2 linked regions of the Homo sapiens genome follow. The protein of the gene in region 1 interacts with the protein of each later gene in a biochemical or structural test. Each region holds a gene or a part of one and is shown on either strand. Other genes may lie near its edges.

Region 1 (10,405 bases):
GCAATACCAACTCCACCTTGCCTCCTCTTCCCTTCACCCGTCCACTTCCCCCAGCGCCTGTCCACCCAAGCAAAGCCTGTCTTGCCTGGGCCGTGGGATCACCATCTATACCAAGGCCAGGGAGTCCCTTTCCCAGAAGCCTTCCCTCGACCAGTGCTCAAATGCCAGCTCCCAGCCCTGGCCTCAGCCCAGTTACCTGTCAGCCCCACTCAAAGTGCAATGGAGATGAAGAGCCTGCTGGGTTCACATCTCAAAGCACAGGGGTATGTGGGCCTTGCCTAATTGGCAGCAGGAGCAAACCCTTCAAGCTTTAGTCAGAACACATCACTTAGATCCTGAGGATGGTTACTGTAAGAAGCCACATCCATGGGGCCTAAGCACAGCCCCCTCGCCAGCCCTTTCCACTGGTGCCCCCGGGGGCTGTGGGCTAAAGAAGCACTTATCAGAACCACCACAGGGACTGGTTCCAAATGCACAGCCAGGCTGGCCCTCTGCCTTCCTCATCGGGCTCAAAACCAACACTGTGAGATTTTAGCCTTGCATCAAACCAGACCTAATTATAGCTGAGGATCAGGCCCTTTGATACCTCACAGAATTGCTCTTCCTGGACAGGGATTGCCTTAAGACAGGGGTGTGTGGGGTGTGGTGGTATAAGAAACACTGTTTTGGAACTTCTTGCTGGCATCCTAAGGATGCTTTTGTGGCTCCTATTTGAGGACAACAGGAGAGGTTCTTTTGTTTTAAGTACTATGAAAAGCCATGCTTCTCCTGAAGTTCACATTCTCTTTCCTTGCCTTGGCTGTGAGGATGCTCAGAGCCAACTTTTTGGCCACCTCTAACAACCATGCGGCCATGGCATACATTTTGAGTATGACTTTATCTCTGACTTTTCTTTGCTTTTCCTACCTTTATTTTCCCCATGTGTGTGTGTACACACATACACATACAACTTTATCTTGTGTGTATGTATATGTATCTTATACCATGGCAGCCTATAAATGAGTAAATAGATACTAAGCCAGTGCCTTCCTTCCCACTGCCCACTGCAGCCCACCTTTTGTTCTCTCTACCCTAGTCAAGCAGCCTGCTTCTCTACTGCCCATCATTTTTGGTAAACCCACTGCCAGGAATGCCCTGCTGTTTCTCTCTGCCAGCTGCAGTTCTATGGCCCATGCCGGCAGTGCAGTCCTGTTCTGTATTGCTGGCCTGGGCACAGGCCTCCTTGAGGTCTCCTGGTCTTCTCTGAGTGCCCCTCTGAGCCCAGCCAGCTCTCTCTCAGCATGGTGGCTTCCCAAAGCCAGCTCTGGTGACAATCATGTCACACTCTGCTACAGAAACAAAGTGTCCACGGATTTCTCACTCTGGCATTTAAGGCCTCCCCATTTAGGGTCACCCCAAGCACCTGTTGACGCTAGCTTATCCCCTTCCCTCAATCACACACCAAGGCTCCACCAACCAGATTTTCCCTGCTTTAAACACGTCCTATGCTTTCCTTCTTTCCTTTGTTCATGCTGTTCTTTCCTTCTAGAAGTGATGCTCCCTCCCCCACACCCAGCCTTCCTCCCCATCTCCACCTGTAAAAATGTCCTCATTCCTTGGGCCAGGGTGCACGCATTAGTGGCCTCTCCTGCTGAGAGCTACCTCACTTCCACATTAGACCTCGTGCAGTGGGGAGTAAAAGAGCCACCTTCCAGCTGGGAAGCTGAGGTGCCCAGGTACAAACCCAAGGCTATCTTGACCCCAGCCTTCTACTTTCACTGACCTGGCTGTGCTAAGCCCCTTGTGGATGGGCTTCTCAAACTCAACACTACTGACATTTTGGGCCAGACAATTCCTTGTTATGAGGGCGTCCTGTGCACGGAGGATGTTCAGAAGCATCCCTGACCACTATCTATGAGATGCCAGTTAAACCCCATTCCCCCTCCCCCAATTTATGGTGAGCCAAAACGTCTGAAGACATTGCCAAATGTCCCCTGTGGGGAGGGGAGGGAAGGGCTATCAGTCCTGGTTGAGAACTAGTGGTCTAGCTTGAAGGTTGGCCACTGTTACAGCATTACGTTCTGCCCAGTATTGAAGTCACCTACGACCACTAAAACAATCTCATGCGCAATTTGATCACAATACTTTTGTACACTGCACAGCAATAGTTCTCAAATGGATTGCATCAAAATTTTCTGGGATGTTTGTTAAAAATACGTCTCACTGGGTCCTACCTTGGTAGATGTGGGGATGGGCCCCAGATGTGTGTTTTTAACAAGTTCTTTGGAGAGTCCCAATGCACAGACATCCGGGAAACCAATTCTACTGATACTTCTAGAACAGCACTGTCCAAAGAACTTTCTCCAGTGATGGAAATATTCTATATCTGCACTGTCCAAGATGTCACCATTAGCAACATGGGCAACTGGGCACTTGCAAGGATGCTAGTGCAAGTGAGGAAATGAACTTTTAATTCAACTGAATTTTAACTAATTTAAGTCGGAACACCCACATGTGGCTGCAGAATTGGAGAGCACAGGCCCAGCTCTTCCGCTAGGAGCCTTCCCAAAGGCTCTCATTTAATGACACCTCCTTCCTTGTTACGCCACATGCTGCTGAAATGCAGTGCTCAGGGGCTGCCCGCTGATTGAGAGGACAGGGAAGAATGACTGGACCCATGTCTAAATAATGTCCCAGAAGGGGAAACTCACGGTTTCTCACAAGCCTCAAGAGGTTAGATATGTGCCTTTCCGGCAGGCATGGCCAGAGCACACCCGCCTCTTCCCTCTGGGTCAAGTGTGGCCCATCACGGGCCACATTCAGTGCCCAATGTCCCTTCTCCCTGGTTCCTGGAAGTGATGGGTGGGCCCAGACAGCCTGTTACAAACTTACCCCCTACTGCTGGATATGCTTCCCCAATCCCAGTGCCTCTGACTCTACTGCAGCACAATCCTGTCTGTATCTGGAATGTCAAAGCACACCACAGCCCCATCAGAGAGTGCAACAGGGCTGTGGAATCCAGTCATTTGGATGTGGTTCCAGCTCTGAATTAAGGAGCTGGGAGGCCTTGAGCATGCTCTATCTGGTTTGCGGCGTCACTGTCCTCACCTGCTTAGAGCCACTTCATGAAGTGCCCACACTACTGCTCTTTCTTTGCGTAAGCCAGCCTTGTTCAGAAACAGTCTGGGGCCCATGTGATGGGCGCATACTGTATTTGGGTAGAAAGTGGGGGTTGGGGGGTTGTGTATGTAGAACCAGTAAGGGGCTTATGGCTCTACCATTTGGTGGCCCCTTGGCTCCTACTTTGTTGAGAGCAGACCAGTGGAGGGTGCTGCTGGGCAGAAGTATTGGCCAGAGCGGCCCTGAGGGGTCCTCCTGTCTCGAACGTGAAGAAGAGGTGCAGCAGCCCCCCATCTAGACCTGCAAGCAGCAGACGGAAACCTCATGCCACACATTCACCAAGTCCTGAGCTGAGCAAGTGAGGCCAGGTGTGAACAGTTTATACAGCGCCACAAAGCAGTGCTTCTGTGTGGCTGCTCTCAATGTGGAACACAATTATGAACATGACCCCAAAGCACACACCTTCAAAACACCTGGATTTGGACTGTGAGTAAGCAGAAATGCCAACACCCCATCCCGAAAGAAGCAGAATGACGGCTGCCTCTGCCTGGTCCCTCTGGGACCTCTGGTGGCCGCTCTAGCACCTGCCTCGTGAGAGGCCCAGCAAGCTGGCTCCTGGGCAGAAGTGAAAGGATGGGGGTACATCTACCCAGATGAGGGGACCCCTTAGCTAGAAAAAGGGACACAGGTCACAACACCCTGTGCAGTCTGTTTGCAACCTGCCATGTATCCTTTCTCCCAAGGGGCCCAAAGGTCAGTGGTAGCTGGATGAAACGCTAGGCATACCAGGACGATGACGAGCTCACTGTCACCCTGCACTCAGCCCAGTCTGACCTGACTGTGGGCCCAGCCTGGAGCCCTCAACAGCGCGACTCTGGGAGAATGTGAATGAAACGATCACCACTCACCCCGGCCAGTGTGCCACACCTTGGGAGCTGGTGGGATGGAGAGCGGGCAGTGCAACCCTTCCCCTTGCTGGCAGGCACAGCGGAGATCGCCTGCACCTTGTCTGCCCCTCTCCCTTGTTCCTGCTCCTATGTTTGCCCTTCAGGTTGGCTTCTGTATGTTCCTGGAACCTCAAAGGAGTCCCATGTGACAGGTGATTCCACAGGGGCTCTCTCCTGAGCTCTGGAGCCTGTCTCTGCTACTGAGAGCCGTGGGGTGCCCTAGTTTAAGTTTCTGAGCCTCAGTTTCCTTATCTGTGATTGGAGTCTCATAACTGACCAACCAGGAGATACTCCTCAAACCCCCTCCTCTCGGCCACTGCTTGTCCTCTGGTGACACACAGACCGTGGGACTGCTGGGGCACCTGCTCCTTGGTGAGCCTTCCTGACCCCCCCGGGGGGTGGGTCTCGAGTCTGCTCTGAGAGCTCCTTGAGCAAGGCTGGAGAGGCCTAGCTTCCCTCCAGGCCTGTGTCAGGCTCCCCCTTGCTGCAGCCCTGGGACTCCTGGTGTCCTGCCCGCCCTGCCCCAGCAGCTCCATGAGGCCTCCAACATTAAGCTGTGTGCTTCTTTTGCTTTTGATTCTCATCAGCCCAAAGGTGCCCTTCCATCTTCCCAGGGCCCTTCTTTGATCTGTCAGGGATGTCTACCCTCAGAGGCCTATAGGATCAGTGGGGGATGTTGGAGAGCTGCTGTGTAGGGACAGGTCCACTGTAAAGGATGCCAGCCAGGGATCTGCATGCTTGTTTTCTGGTGGCTTACTCAGGCAGGGACATCTGACTAGATGCAGGGGAGGCCCAGGTGTGGGCAATGGCTTCCCCTGCTGAAACAGTTTTCATCTGATTCTCTCAAATGCCCTTAGAGGGACAGTGTCCCACATGGAATAGGGCTGGATATGGAGGAAGCAAGCCTGAGTGTGAATCCTAACTGTAACTTACATGCTGTGTGACACTGGGCAAACCAGACTACCTCTCTGAACCTCAGTTTCAGCATCTAGGTGTCTCTTCAGGTTGGGGCTGGTTTGTGGGTGATGCGCAATGGTCCCACAGATCAGTGGGGAGCCTCAGGAGCTGTTCAGGGCTGGGTAGAGAAGGTGGGCGGGACAAGGAGGGGGCATCTGTCTGAAGGGGGGAGCTGTCTTGAGTAGACTGAACCACGTTGAGATCATATCCCCAGTGACAGAGACTTCCCTGCAGTGGAGACTCTGCCTGTGTTCATGAAACCCATAAACATGCTCGCTGTAAAGAAGGGCAAAGTCGCTGTTTCTCACTCCCCACCCCACAGCATCACTCTGTGCACACCCCTTTGGTATCTTCCTGCTATTCTGGAAGAAGAAGTAGATGGTTAGAGCCAGACGGGGGCTCCAAACCATAGGGTTCAGCTGCATCCCGCCTAGAGGAGGCCCCGTGCCATTCGCGGCAGACCAGGGAAGGCTGGGCGGGGACTGGGCGAGTGTCTGTCCACTGCACTAACATATTCAGTGAATAAATGGCTTCTATACATCTTTTCACTCACTTGTCAAAGGAAAAGGATACTCCCTTCTTTGCTTTTCTCCTGGACATTCTCCATTCCGGGTAGAGCCGACGCCACACGTCGAAAAAGCTGGAAAGATGAAGAAATGCAGTGTGAACCCCAACCCTGGCCCTCCCCTCTGCTCCTCACTGCACCTGCACCCTCACCCCTCTTCCCCTCCCAACCTGCAGCTTTACTCTCCCATCTGCCCAGCGGACGGTGCCCTCAAAGGCAGGGGCTGTGCCTATGTTCTCTCTCCCCCACCTCTCACAGCATTGGGTCTGGGCAGGCCTCAGTAGCTTGTGGAAGGAAGGAACAAAGCTGTGGCCTCTCACCCAAGCAGACTGGCCATAGGGTCACTGGGATGAGCTTAGGTCATGGCAGTGACTGCAAGGGACTTCCTCTGGTGCAGAAAATGGTTTGGGCCTCTGGGTGACAGGCCTTAAGGTGGGCTTCTGCAAACAGCCCTCATGGGGACCAGGCATGGGGAAGTGACTTGCCCTTGAGATGAATGACTCTGCTTGGGGAGCCCTGCAGGTCCGGCGCCAAGGCAGCGAACAGCAGGGCCAGGGCTGCATGGGCACAGTGGTGAGGCTTCTCTGAGAGCGCGAGGGATGCAGGAGTGTGAACACAATTTTGTGGGCTTGTTTGGATGTGTAGGAGTGTGAGTTGTTTATTGTGTGTAGGAGTGTGTGTACAGTGTATGTGTTTTATCTGTAGGACTGCGTGGAAAATGTGTGTGTTGTGAGTGGTGCGTGTGGGTAGGTGCATGTATGTTTGTGTAAGCATATGGGGGAATGTTTGAGTGTGGTGTGTGTGAACGTGTGGCATCTTTATGTGTGTGTTTGTGTAAGTGTGGGGGGAATGTGTGCATAGTGTGTGTCCTTGGTAAGGTGTGTGTCTGCGTACATGTGGGTTTTCTGTGTGTGTGTGTGTGTGTGTGTGTGTGTGTTTGGGCAGGTGTGGGTGGCAGGGGACAGGTGGCAAGTGGCAGATGGGGTGCTGGCAGAGATGGAATCTTGGAGGTGACAGGTACGAGGCAGAAGTATGAGGCACAGAAGACTCTGAACTGCTAGGTTCTGAATGCCGGTCCCCCTGCAAATTCCTATGTTGAAACAGAATCTCCAATGTGACAGTATAAAGAGGTGGGGCTTTAGGAGGTGCTTAGTCAGGAGGGTAGAGTCCTCATGAACGGGATGAGTGCCCTTATGAATGAGGCCCGAGGGAGCCTGTCTGCCCCTTCCACCTTGTGAGGATGCAGCAGGAAGGTGCCATCTAGGAGGAAATGGGCCCTCACCAGACACTGAATATGCCTGCACCTTGACCATGGAGTTCCCAGCCTCCAGAGCTGTAAGCAATACATTTCTGCTGTTTATATGCTACCCTGCCTATAGTGATTTGTTACGGTAGCCTGAAAGGACTAACCCAGGAGCACTCCCGCTGTCCTCACAAATGTGAATTGCAGGAACTGGGTGGGCTCTGGGCTCATACCCTCCACTGCATGAGCTCTCTGAAGACAGGGTGAGTCTTATTCATGGCCTCACCCCAGAGCCCAGCCCCAGCTGAGCACCCGGGCTGGGTGACAGGGCTAAAGGCCATGAGGGCCCAAGGGGGGAAGCTGCTGGTGGGCCCAGCATGGTGTGAGACCCTTGTGGGCGGGCTGCAGAGGAGGCTCTGCAGTGGGGTAGCCATTAGTAGGCAAGGGTAAAAGGGCCCAGGCCATCCTTCCTGAGCTTTCCTTCATGGCATTGGCCCTGGGCGGCTCTGATCTGCCTGTCTGGCTCTCAAAACAGTCACAGCCTCTACTAGTGGCCAAAATGCCACTAGGGATTTTGAAGGGTGCTCTAGGATCAGGTATGGGTTTCTAGGGTCAGGTATGGGTTTCTGTGAGTGGATATGCTCACATTTAGATCCAGGAGTCTGCACTGCATGGACACTCCTCTGAGCCACACAGGGTTCGAAACTGACCACATTTAACTCCTGCTAAACCACTGCATGGGTTCCAGAGCACTCTGGGGGTAGGGGCATCAGTGCCTCCCTGACCCTGACGGCTGAGGCAGATGCTACCTGCCCTATGGACCTCCTGGTGCTGCCCTGCCCTCCCTCTGCTTCCCTGCTTCCCATGACTTTAGGGCTCCCAAAGAGTAGCAGCCCAGTCTCTCCTGCATGCCCCCAGGGAGCAGGAAGGACCATGACAGCTTCAGCCCCACACCAAGGGAGGCTGGGAACAGATGGGAGTGAGTGAAGCCCTGATGAGGACACTCTAGTTAGGGTGGGGCACTGAGTCCTGGAGCTTTGGGGCCCCCAGTGTCACATAGTGTCCCTTCCACCCTTCTTGTCTCTTCTTGTCGTTCTGCCAGCCCACCTTCCCCACTGCCACCAGCACTGTCCACACAGGGCAAACCATCACTGCATCCAGAAGGCCAGTGCTGTATACACAGCTTGCCAAGGGTTCCCAGCAATGCTGGGGTGGCAGGGCAGAAGCGACCGCCAGGCCAACCACACTCCTCACCCAGAGTCCCCTCCCCATACCTCGGGCACCCTGCAGCCACACCTTTGCTGCTCCCCTGCTTGGCATGCCCTCCCTCCTCACCACCTCTCCAAGTCCTTCTCATCCCCAACGGCAGGAGTTCTTAACCCTTCCGTGAGCCAAGGACCCCTCTGGCAATCTGGTTAATCCTATGGACTCCTTTGAAGTATGTGAAATCAATTACATAGGATGATAAAGGGGACTACTGAGTACTGAAATAAAACTTCATCGACATTTGTGCTTCCTTATGAAACACATTGAACAGCGAGAACTAGCAAGAGATCTAATAAGTAGTGTGATGCTGAAACACTGATAGATGTGAAGTTCAAGATACCTGCAACACTATGAGGTGATGGGAAGGCATCTGTGATTTCTATTGGTGGTAAAGCCATAGGCACTGCTAATGTGACTGAGTGTCATTGCCTACATTCATCATTGAAGGACAAATCAGACGTCCTTCAGTGCTACGGACGGGTCAGTGGTTAGTGAAGATAAAGGTGCAATGTTTTCCAGCCCTGTCTGCTGACCTGCTAAATTCCACCCATGGACTACTCAGGGGCCCTCATGCTGCAAGGCTCAGCCCTAACTCCACTGCCTCGCCCTCCTGTGAGTTCCAACCACATCATGGTAGGCTCTTTCCCCCAGGCCTGAGTTGCCCTCCACAGCCCTGAGCACTTGCTAAGCGCAAGGCATGAACCCCAAATGCTGATCAGATTGAATTTTCCTGCACCTGTCATCCAAAGTGGGGTGAGGGGCTAGGGAACCACTGCTTCCCTCAGCCTCCTGGAAGCTGGTGGCTGGACACTCTTAGGGCCTGCTACGTGGGCCGTGACTGGCAACTACTACGGTGGCTGGTGACTTATGTTCTCCAGATGCCATGCCCGGAGTGGTCCCTCCCTCTTTTGGGCTTTACCAGCTCCGGAAATTAGCTCTCCCCTCCCTGGGCGCATCTATGGGTGTTCTGGTTGGCTGCCCCAATCCCATCACCAGCCCTTCAGGGCAAGGCAGCTCTGAGCCTGCAGCTGACCACAGGGCTACACCGTGCCGGGCCCCGTGCCGGGCCCCGTGCCAGGTGTGTCCTCACCTGCTTCACGTTGTAGCCAGTCTTCGCACTGGTCTCAATGAACATGACGCTCAGTTCTTTGGCGCGCTGCTCCCCCTCCTCGATGGTTATCTGCCTAGAGATGAGGGGAAGGGGGGAAATCAGCTCAGCAGAGAAGCAGACCCTGGCAGATATGAGGAGGGACCCACCCAGCAGGGCAGAGGGAGCCCACTGGGCCCTTGGTCAGTCCTGAAGACAGGCTCTGATCCCAAGGGTCCCTCCCGGGCACCAACCACAGTCTCGCTAGCACAAAGCAGGCACCAGGGAACAGTAGGACACTATCCGCTTCCCCCACTCCTTCCTTTGTGTCTTCTCAGCTTCAAAGCAGGCCCTGGGGTAGGGCTGCCCCATACCTGCCTTTCCCAGTAGTCACTACTGCAGAGCCTGTGCTTATGAAGAGATTCAAGCCAGGCAGTGCCACTCTGGGTGGTATTATCAGTCGCATTTTCCCTGTGAGAACACTAATGCTAAAAGTGTCTCCCCCAGGGCCACAAAGCTACTTAGCAGAGAGGGCTCCATGATGGGGCAGGCAGAAGTGGGTGAGGGTATGAAGGGCCTGGGTACCCTTTGTACTGGGATTTGAGCCCAGTTTTCCTTACTTTAAGGACAGAACTCTAGTAAAGCAGGCTCTAATTCAGATGATTCCTCAGGTGGTCAAGGGACGCTGCAGGAAGCCCACACTGCTTGCTGGAGTCCATGGCCTGTCACTTTATCTGCCCAAGTCAGGGTCATGTAAAATGAGTGGACAATGTACACACATGGCACCTCAGTTCTCCCTGTGCATGGAGGGCAGCATGGAGGAGCCTCTTCAGAGAAAGCTTCATGCCAGACGCAGCCACAAACCAGGCTAAGCAGGCTACGGCCATAGGTTTGTGGTCTGAATGCTCTGCATGCTCACACCTAGGGCCCAGGGCATTCACAGCCCCACGCACATTGGTGCAGACACTTCACAGGCACAGACAGTTCACAGTGCACACGCTGGGGCCTAGAGGACTGCTGTGTCTGGGGCAGGGCTGTGGCCATGGCAGGGCCTTAGACCATGCACTGCTGGGTCAAGCCAGGTGCACAGTGCTCTGTGTAGACAGCAAACGGAGAAGTGCCCCGCCCCTGCCTGGTGGTGGAAGACAGGGCTTCACAGATGAGATACCCATGGATGAGAGTCTACCAGGTGTCCTCAAAGCTCCTAGTGTCTCAAGGGACCTTTTCCGGATGCATGGTCA
Region 2 (10,405 bases), on another chromosome or scaffold:
CACAAGGCAAGGTGCAGTGGCTCACACCTGTAGTCCCAGCACTTTGGGAGACCAAGGCAGGCAGATTACTTGAGCTCAGGAGTTCAAGACCAGCCTGAGCAGCATAGTAAAACTCCATCTCTACAAAAAAGTACCAAAAAAAAAAAAAAAATTAGCCAAGCATGGTGGTATGCACCTGTAGTCCCAGTTACTTGGGAGGCCGAGGTGGGAGGATCACTTGAGCCCAGAAGGTCAAGGCTGCAGTGAGCCATGATCACAACACTTCACTCCAGTCTGGGCGACAGAGTGAAACTGTCTCAAAAAAAAAAAAAAAAAAAAAAAAAAAAAAAAAGCCGGGCATGGTGGCTCACACCTGTGATCCCAGCACTTTGAGAGGCTGAGGCAGGTGGATCATTTGAAGCCAGGAGTTCCAGACCAGCCTGGTCAACATGGCAAACACCCATCTCTACTTAAAATACAAAAAAACAGCTGGGTGTGATGGTGGGCACCTGTAATCCCAGCTACTCGGGAGGCTGGGGCAGGAGAATCACTTGAACCCAGGAGACGGTGGTTGCAGTAAGCAGAGATTGCGCCACTGCACTCCAGCCTGGGCAACAGAGCGAGACTCCGTCTCAGGAAAAAAAAAAAAAAAAAAAAAAGACTTTACAAGAATAGTCATAGTGGCATAATCCATAATAGCCCAAAACTAGAAACAACCTAAATATCCATCAATAATACAATAAACTGTAGTATATTTATACAATGGAATACTATTTAGCAATGAAAATGAACGAACAGCTACATACAAATCTAAATCTTACAAACAAAATGTTGAGTCAAAGCCAGACATGAATACATACAATATGATTCCATGCATATAAAGATGCAAAACAATCAAAACTAAGCCAAAACTAAAAAGGTCTACACACACAAAAAAAGAAGGTGATTCTCCTACAATCAGGACAGAGATTACCTTTATGAGAGAAGGACTGGGTTGTGATTGGGAAGCTTCAAGGAAAGCTTGTGGAATGTCAGTAAGGTCCTAGTGCTTGACCTACATCATGGTTATACAAGTGTCTGATTCATAAATTGTAAAGCTTTACTTTTGTTTTACATACTTTTCTACATATGTGTTACATTCAAGACGGGCTTCAAGGCCGGACACAGTGGCTCATGCCTGTAATCCCAGCATTTTGGGAGGCCAAGACAGGAGGATCATTTGAAGCTATGAATTCGATGCCAGCCTAGACAAAAAACCAAAACTCAATATCCACAAAAATAAGTTTTAAAATTAGCCAGGCAAGGTGGCAAGCACCGGCAGTGTGGCTCACGCCTGTAATCCCAGCACTTTGGGAGGCCGAGGTGAGCAGATCACCTGAGGTCAGGAGTTTGAGACCAGCCTAGCCAACATGGTGAAACTCCATCTCTACTAAAAACAAAAATTAGCCAGGCGTGGTTGCCCATACCTGTAATCTCAGCTACTTGGGAGGCTGAGGCAGGAGAATCGCTTGAACCTGGGAGGTGCCGTGAGACGAGATCGCATCACTGCACTCCAGTCTGGGCAAAACTCCATCTCAAAAAAACAAACAAACAAAAAAGTTAATTAAAAATAAATAAATACACAAATAATGGCTTCAAGAAAGAATTCCTTCAAAAGGTAAGTTATATTCCTACAGTAAAATTATGTTTAAGGTCTGAATTTTATTTCTTGAGAAGTTTTTACAATTTCAGACACTTAATTTTTTTTGTTTTAAGACAGAATCTTGCTCTGTCACCAGGCTGGGTGCAATGGCGTGATTTTGGCTCACTGCAACCTGTGCGTCCCAGGTTCAAGCGATTCTCTCACCTCAGCTTCCCAAATAGCTAGGACTACAGGCACACACCACCACACCCAGCTAATTTTTGTATTTTTAGTAGAGACGGGGTTTCACCATGTTGGCCAGGATGGCAGAGACACTTAATTTAAGTTCACACAAATTTTCATCCCAAAATTTTCATCCCATTGGGTTATTTTTTTTTTTTTTTCTGAGACAGGGTCTCGCTCTGTCATCCAGACTGGAGTGCAGTGGTGTAATCCCAGTTCACTGCAACCTCCGCCTCCAGGGTTCAAGGAATTCTCATGCCTCAGCCTCCAGAGTGGCTGTGATTACAGGCGTGCACCACCACACCCAGCTAATTTTTTTATTTTTTAGTAGAGATGGGGTTTCGCCACGTTGCTCAGGCTGGTCTTGAACTCCTGGCCTCAAGTGATCCACCCACCTCAGTCTGCCAAAGTGCTAGGATTACAGGCGTGAGCCACTGTGCCTGGCCTGATTATCTTATTTCCATGCAAAAGGGCTTCCAAACATAAATGCATTAACAATGAGAAAAAATGAAACTAATATATACAAAAGGGCTGTCACATAAAAATTATCTATTCATCACTTAGCACACCATAATAAAGTTAAAAAGAATACAGGTGTTTAGTTTCATTCTTTGGTGAACAACTAAAAATGACTGTTCAAGAGTTGCCACCTTTCTGAAGCACAGCCCTGATCATGCATCTCCTACTCAGAAATCTTCAATAGCTACACACGCAGTATCTCAAGATTGGAAGGAATCTTAAAAATCACCTAGCGGGCTGGGCACAGTGGCTCACGCCTGTAATCCCAGCACTCTGGGAGGCCAAGACAGGCGGATCACCTGAGGTCAGGAGTTTGAGACCAGCCTGACCAACATGGAGAAATCCCGTCTCTACTAAAAATACAAAATTAGCTGGCCGTGGTGGTGCACGCCTATAATCCCATCTACTCGGGAGGCTGAGGCAGGGGAATCGTTTGAACCCGGGAGGCGGAGGTTGCACCATTGCACTCCAGCCTGGCGACAGAGTGAAACTCCATCTCAAAAAAAAAAAAAAAAAAAAATCACCTAGCACCAGGTTCAATGCTTGCAACCTGGCAGAGGATGCACTACCTCATAGAAACATTCACACCATCACTGAACAGCCATGGCTCTAGAAAAATAAAAAGCAATAGTAAAATGGAAGGTGGAGGAGAGGGAGAAATCAAGAACACCACACACATTTCCGGCTTAAGCACCCAGTGGTGTCATTTAACAAATTAAGAAACACCAGAGGAAGTGTAGGAATCATACATTCCGTTCTGGATGTGTTCGGTTTAAGGGGCATCCAAATGGAAACATTCAGTAGCAATTCGATAGAGTGGTCCTCAGACTCAGGAGAGAGGTAAAAACTGAAGACATAAAAATGAATACTCAGCACACAGATGAAAAATGAAATAGAAAGCGATGAGAAAGCCCAAAGAAATTCAAACATTTAATAAATGAGCACAGAAAGACTCAAAAGGTGACTGAGAGGCCAGGCACGGTGGCTCACGCCTATAATCCCAACACTTTGGGAGGCCAAGGCAGACAGATCACCTGAGGCCAGGAGTTCGAGACCAGCCTGGCCAACATGGTGAAACCCCATCTCTACTAAAAATACAAAAATTAGCTGGGTGTGGTGGTGCACACCTGTAATCCCAGCTACTCAAGAGGCTAAGGCAGGAGAATCACTTGAACCCAGGAGGCGGAGGTTGCAGTGAGCCAAGATTGTGCCACTGCACCCCAGCCTGGGCGATAGAGCAAGACTCTGCCTCAAAAAAAAAAAAAAAAAAAAAAAAGTGACAGAGAAAGAGCCCAGAGAACCAGCAAGAAAAACAGAAAAGTGCTCTGAAGACCTCAAGAGAAGAGAGAGCTTTACAAAGGAAGGAGGGGTATCCGCTCTGTCAAATGCTGCTGTGGTAGACAGTCCTGAAATGGCTATGAGTGATCTCTGCCTCCCAGCATTCATGCAATTGTGAAATCCTGCCTTGAGTGCACTGGACCTAGTGACTGGCTGATAACAGAATACAACAAAAGTGATACCACATCACTTCCAAGATAAGGTTACAAAAAGATTCTGGCTAATATCTGTCCTCTTTTGAAGACAGAAGCACTGAGATATCATATTTTAAGTAGTCGTACGCAGAAACCCAAATGGCAAGGGACTCACCTCTCCAGCAAGCAGCCAACAAGGACCTCAGGCCTGCCAATTGCCGCATGAGTGAGCTTGGAAACAGCCTCCCCAAGTAGCGCTTTGAGATGACTGCAGCCTTGTGAGAGACCCTGAATCATAGGTGCCAACTGCACCCACATTCCTGATCTACAAAATCTGTGAAACAATAAATGTTTCTTAAGTTAGGGGGTAATTTGTTATATAGCCAATAGAAACTAGCACAGCTGCTAAGAGGTTAAATAAGAACAGGATAGTAAAATAGACATTGGCTATTTTCATACATATTTTCACTAGCTATTTTCAGTTTCACTGAAATAATGGCGATAGAAACAAGACAGAAATAGGTTGAGAAGTCACAGGTGAAGAAATGGAGATACACAGCAAATGCAGAAAACTCTTAAGTGTGTAAAGCAGAGAGCAACTTAGAGCAATAAAGTATAAATCTGGAGTTTTTTATTAAGATGAAGAGACATTTTAAAGTTTAAATGATGATAACAAGCCAATAGGGTGGAAAAATACACTCTCATGGAACTTCATTCTTTTATCAAGAAACTCCTCTAAAAGTCTTCAACTTCCTTGGGAAATGTTCTTGCTACCTCTCTGCCTTAACTGAAAGCTGACTTTCCAATCAGGACACCTCTTCTCATATAGTCCTTTTAAGTGAAAGCTACTCAGTCTCTTCCACTCCACACCCAATACTGGGAAATGAGGCTGGTACCTTCCTTCCTGCCAGTGCCAGTTCCAGACCACTATTCCCAAACCCTTACGTAAAATCTTAGTCTAATTCTCATGCTATTCAGCAGCACAGTCTTCAACCTCTACCTCTTCACTATCAGCTAATGACCACCTGGACATCCCCCATACTCAGTAAGGATATGCTGGCAACTAGTTCACAGCTGCCATTATCCTCTATGCCACCAGTCTTGCTACCATCCTGTGTCATTTCAATAAATGTATGGATGAGTCTAACACCAAGTTCCTCAAACCCAAGATCCTCAACAAGCACCTCTTTATTTCCTGGGTATTCAACTTGTGAATTCACATTATTATGCTAGCATCCATTCATTCATCAAGTATTTAATAAGTATCTAATAGATAGTTCCTGTCCTCAAGAAATCTAGGACACATATGTTCGTACTTTCCACAAAGACGACATGAAAAAGCCTAGCTGACGTATACATAAATTCCAACTACTGCATTTCCTTTATTTATCAGTCAAGTAACCAAGTCAATTCTAGGCAACTACTGTCTGATGTGACTTAGTGAATCCATGTTTGATCCTAGCAGTCACTATTTCCCTTGACAGGCTTCTAAAACTATCTTTTAAATAAGCTATTCTAAAATAGTGCCTGGGCAACATAATGACGCCTTGTCTCTCTACAAATTTTTTTTAATTAGCCAGGCATGGTGGCACATGGCTACAGTCCCAGCTACTCTGGAGGCTGAGGTGGGAAGATCGCTTGAGCCCAGGAATTCAAGGTTGCAGTAAGCTATAACCGCACCATCGCATTTCAGACTGAGTAACAGACCAAGACCCTTCTCAAAAAGTATAAAATATTGCCAGTGTTCAGTGTCAGAGTGGAAGATAAAATGTTTCTTATATGTATGCAATTTTAGAATAGGTAATGTCCTATTACACAAAATTTCACTGGCTAAAAAGAAAAAACAAGAAACTGCAAACAGTGATTGCCTTCAGAAAGAACTAGATGGGATAGGAGAGACTTTTAACTGTGTATTCTCTTATACCTTCTAATTTAGTACATATATTACCTATTTCTTAAAATAAGTGTACATAAAATTAACAACAACAATAAGAAGTCATGTGCCTTTCCTTAGCACTCCCAGGTTGCCTATTTTGTTCTGAAAAGAATGATTTTTTTTAATTTACAGATGGGGTCTCACTATGTAGCCCAGGCTGGAGTGCAGTGGCTATACACATATGCAATCATAGCACACTACAGCCTTGATCTCCTGGACTCAAGCAATCCTCCTGCCTCAGCCTCCAGAGCAGCTGGAACTACAGGCATGTGACACTGTGCCTGGCTGAAATATTTCTTAAAAATCTACCCGGAGAATGAGGCCAGGTGTGGTCGCTTATGCCTGTAATCCCAGCACTCTGAGAGGCCAAGGCGCGCGGATCATGAGGTCAGGAGATCAAGACCATCCTGGCTAACACAGTGAAACACTGTCTCTACTAAAAATACAAAAAAAAAAAAAAAAAAAAAAAAAAGCCAGGCATGGTGGCGGGCACCTGTAGTCCCAGCTACTCCGGAGGCTGAGGCAGAATGGTGTGAACCCAGGAGGCGGAGATTGCAGTGAGCCGAGATTGCGCCACTGCACTCCAGCCTGGGCAACAAAGAGAGACTCCATCTCAAAAAAAAAAACAAAAAAAACAGAGAAGTAAAAAACTAAAAGACTCTTACATTTGTCTCATCTATCTCACACTAAAACTTATTTAGTCATTTCCCTGTTATTAGACATCATAATCAAGCAGAATTCTCTCTTACTCAACATTCTGACACAACTTTAAACAATGACACCGCTGACCGTTCCCTCCTTCTTGAAAGCTTCCTTTCCTTCACTTCTAGAATATCATACTCCCCTGGTTTCCCTCCTAACTCAATGATTTCTTATCACTCTCCTTTACTGGTTCCTCTTGATTTCCCCTCACGTATCTAGAAGGTAAGTTCCATGAAGGTGAAAACTTTTGTCAGGTTTATATCCCCAATGCCTAAAAAGGTACCTAGAAGAACCATACTCACTAAGTAACTTATGAATGAATAAGTGAATGAATCAGTCCCCTAGGCTCAGATGTTTGGATCTCTTCTCCACCAAAATTCACTCCCCTGATGATCTCACCTATCTCATAATCATAAATACTACAAAGAAGCTGAAAACAGCCACATTTCTCACTCTTCCTGGACATCACCCTGAACTTCTGGTTTCTCCACAAACATGCTCCATGAATTACCATCTCCAATTCAGTTACTGGCAACTTTATTCTTCCAGTTATTCAGGCCAAAAACCTTATTCTTTATTCTTCTGTTTGGCCCACATCCCGCAAACAACCACCAACAAATTCTATAGGTCTACCCTCAAAATACATACAAAATCCAACCCCTCCTCCCCATTTCACCTTGGTCAGAGATACCCTCACCTGGAACAATACAGCATAAGCTCCTGACTACTGCCCGTACTTTTATTTATTTATTATTTATTTGAGATAGCCTTCCCTCACTCTGTCGCCCAGGCTGGAGTGCAACGACGGAATGACAGCTCACTGCAACCTCGAACCCCTAGGTTCAAGTGATCCTCCTGCCTCAGTCTCCTGAGTAGCTGAGACTATAGGCACATACTGCCATGCTAATTTTTTTTTTTTTTTTTGAGACAGAGTCTTGCTCTGTCACCCAGGCTGGAGTGCAATAGCACGATCTCCACTCACTGCAACCTCCGCCTCCTGGGTTCAAGAGATTTTCCTGCCTTAGCCTTGCGAGTAGCCAGGATTCCAGGCACGCGCCACCACCCCCAGCTAATTGTTTGTATTTTCAGTAGAGACGGGGTTTCACCATGCTGGCCAGGCTGGTCTCGAACCCCTGACCTCATGATCCGCCCGCCTTGGCCTCCCAAAGTGCTGGGATTACAGGCGTGAGCCACCGCACCCGGCCTAATTTTTTTATTTTTGTAGAGACATGGTCTCGCTATGTTGCCCAGCCATCCTCCCACCTCGGCCTCCCAAAGTGCTGGGAGAACTGTTCACTACTATGATACCAGCATCTAGAATATGTGGTACATAATATGTATTTAATATATACTTATTAAGTAAAAATAGTATACACAGTTAAACTTCAAATGATGTTAGTGAACCAGCTAATTATGTGCCCAAACTGTTCTAAATACATGAATTAATTCATTTGACCAGCTTAAGAGGTTAGGTACTACTGTTATTATTTCTATTTTGCAGATGAAGAAATTAAGGTACAGGTTAAGGTTAGGAAATAAACAACATTAAGCAGTTTGCCCTACATCATACCATGGCAAAGCCAGGATTTGAACTCAGGCACTCTGACCCCAGAACCCAAACTCTAGTACACTGAAAGACTTGGTGAGCAACAGATTTCAATTACATTCCACACACAAAAAATAAATAAGAAAAAAAAACAAATTATATTCCACATAATCTGTATGCTAAGTTTATTTTACTATATGTCTCTGAAAACTGATAATCAATGTACTACTGATTCTTAAACCAAAATACTTCATTTCTTGATCTTTTTCCATTAATGTTTCTGATGAAATATGTGTAAAATACACATTTAACAACTCTCATACTTCTAAATGTAAACATAGTGTAAAACCGAGCAGCTGTTGCTATGAAAACCTTCACTTTTTTTTTTTTTTTTTTTTTTTTTTTTTGAGACGGAGTTTTGCCGTGACTCAGGCTGGAGTGCAGTGGTGCAATCTCGGCTCACTGCAAGCTCCACCTCCCAGGTTCAAGCAATTCTCCTGCCTCAGCTTCCTGAGTAGCTGGGGTTACAGGTGTGCACCACCACACCCAGCCAATTTTTATTTTTATTTTTTGAGATGGAATCTCGCTCTGTAGCCCAGACTGGAGTGCAGTGGCATGATCTCGGCTCACTGCAGCCTCTGCCTCCCAGGCTCAAGCAATTCTTCTGCCTCAGCCTCCTGAGTAGCTGGGATTACAGGCATGTGCCACCACGCCCAGCTAATTCTTATATTTTTAGTAGAGACAGGGTTTCACCATGTTGGCCAGGCTAGTCTCGAACTCCTGACCTCATGATCCGCCTGCCTCGGCCTCCCAAAGTGCTGGGATTACAGGCATGAGCCACGGCGCCCGGCCAAGAACCTTCACTTTTAAGTTTGCAGTATTAATGTTGAATTAACAGACTGGCATACTTATCTATGACACAGGTAATGAAGGAAAAAAAACACCTCAGTAGACTCAACAAGGATATCACAAGTAATGACTAGCAAGCAACATTTTTTGAAAAATAAAATGTAGGCATAATTTCAGGCACAAGAAATGCTAAACGAAATAGCTTACTTTTACCTTAAGACTTTCCCCAAATTATGTGATTTCATTCCTACAAGGACAAGAATCACAGCTTACTACCAGCCATGCAAATGTCATTTTAGGAGTACACACAAGTTTTACCCAGTATCTTAGTTCACATTTGTCCCAATTAATTAAGTCTATGTATAATTTAAAAGCGAAAACTAGATATGTCAATTTTGTTTTCCTTCTAACTAATCCAAAGTCAAAACTGTTCACTTTACCAAATGAATTAACTGAATACAGTTAATTAAATCTTTTATTTATAATTAAAAATTGGAACACACACTTTCTCACTTAATACCTATTATGTCCTGTTTCCCATACCTCTCTATAAAGTAGAAGTATTTGCTGGAAGACAATAATCTGCTCATTAAGTAGGCACTTAGAAAAAGCAACGATCTGCAACTACTGAAATTCTTATCTGTATATTTCTCTTTTGGGTTACAAGAAAGCACTTCTCTGGCTATTTTCCCAAATAAACTAGGCAAGCCTTGGGAAAGTCACTGCTTAAATCCCACTTTCTGACAGCTTCTCTTCCTCCATAAATGAATTATTGAGAGCCATGTCTACTTCCATCCATTACATAATACATGTCCATCATGGGACCTGTTTTCTGAACAAGAAATAGCTTAAATGACACTAACTGATAAGTAGGGCCAGAGAATACTGTAATCTAACAGGGAGCAAGAATCCAGAAAAGAAGATTCTGATTTACAGTGCTAAGTTGTGAAAGAGTGATGTGAAGAACATTGAACACTGCTTACTCTAATATTTCCATACAAAGTGACACACCTGCCCCCAAAATGTTTTTAAAGCACTTGACTCCAAGAACATTTCTCAGAAATTGAGGAGCCTACCAAAAAAAAAGAGTTCCATTTCATTTTAAAGTGTTTTAATAAAGACTGCAAGAAACATAACTGCAAATGAGAAATAAAATTTCAACAATTTAGCACTGAACACAAAATGTCTAAAAGTCAAGGTGTACTGAGCAAGCAACACGCTATAAAAGACGGTTGTACTTTAAAACATTTAAGCATTTTTCATATAATTAGCTCCAACAGAACTATTCCAATTGTTCACTTTATCCACCCAAAGCAGTCAACCACAACCACCTGCAACTATTATTCAGCAATGTGCCTTCCAAAGCAACCACCTGAGTTTGGGGCCTTCTCTCAAGGGGCCAGGATAAAGCCTGTAAAAGGGTGGTATAAAGAGATCTTTTAGGCATTGGGGGGAAAAAAAACTGGAAGACACCACCTTGAAGGAGCTAAGCGTAATGCGACCCAAATGGTGGCTGCCGGAACGAAGTTGTCTAAACC

Evidence for each region.
Region 2: the proteins of RAB6B (region 1) and ERC1 form a complex in vitro, tested with the Homo sapiens proteins (one study listed by BioGRID).

The regions. Positions count from the first base shown.
Region 1 is NC_000003.12:133,828,999-133,839,403, forward strand, and holds part of RAB6B (ras-related protein Rab-6B), read right to left. Parts: intron 9,262-10,405; coding exon 9,168-9,261; intron 5,644-9,167; coding exon 5,577-5,643; intron 1-5,576. UniProt on the Homo sapiens protein: The small GTPases Rab are key regulators of intracellular membrane trafficking, from the formation of transport vesicles to their fusion with membranes. Rabs cycle between active GTP-bound and inactive GDP-bound states.
Region 2 is NC_000012.12:992,087-1,002,491, reverse strand, and holds part of ERC1 (ELKS/Rab6-interacting/CAST family member 1), read right to left. Parts: intron 1-10,405. UniProt on the Homo sapiens protein: Regulatory subunit of the IKK complex. Probably recruits IkappaBalpha/NFKBIA to the complex. May be involved in the organization of the cytomatrix at the nerve terminals active zone (CAZ) which regulates neurotransmitter release.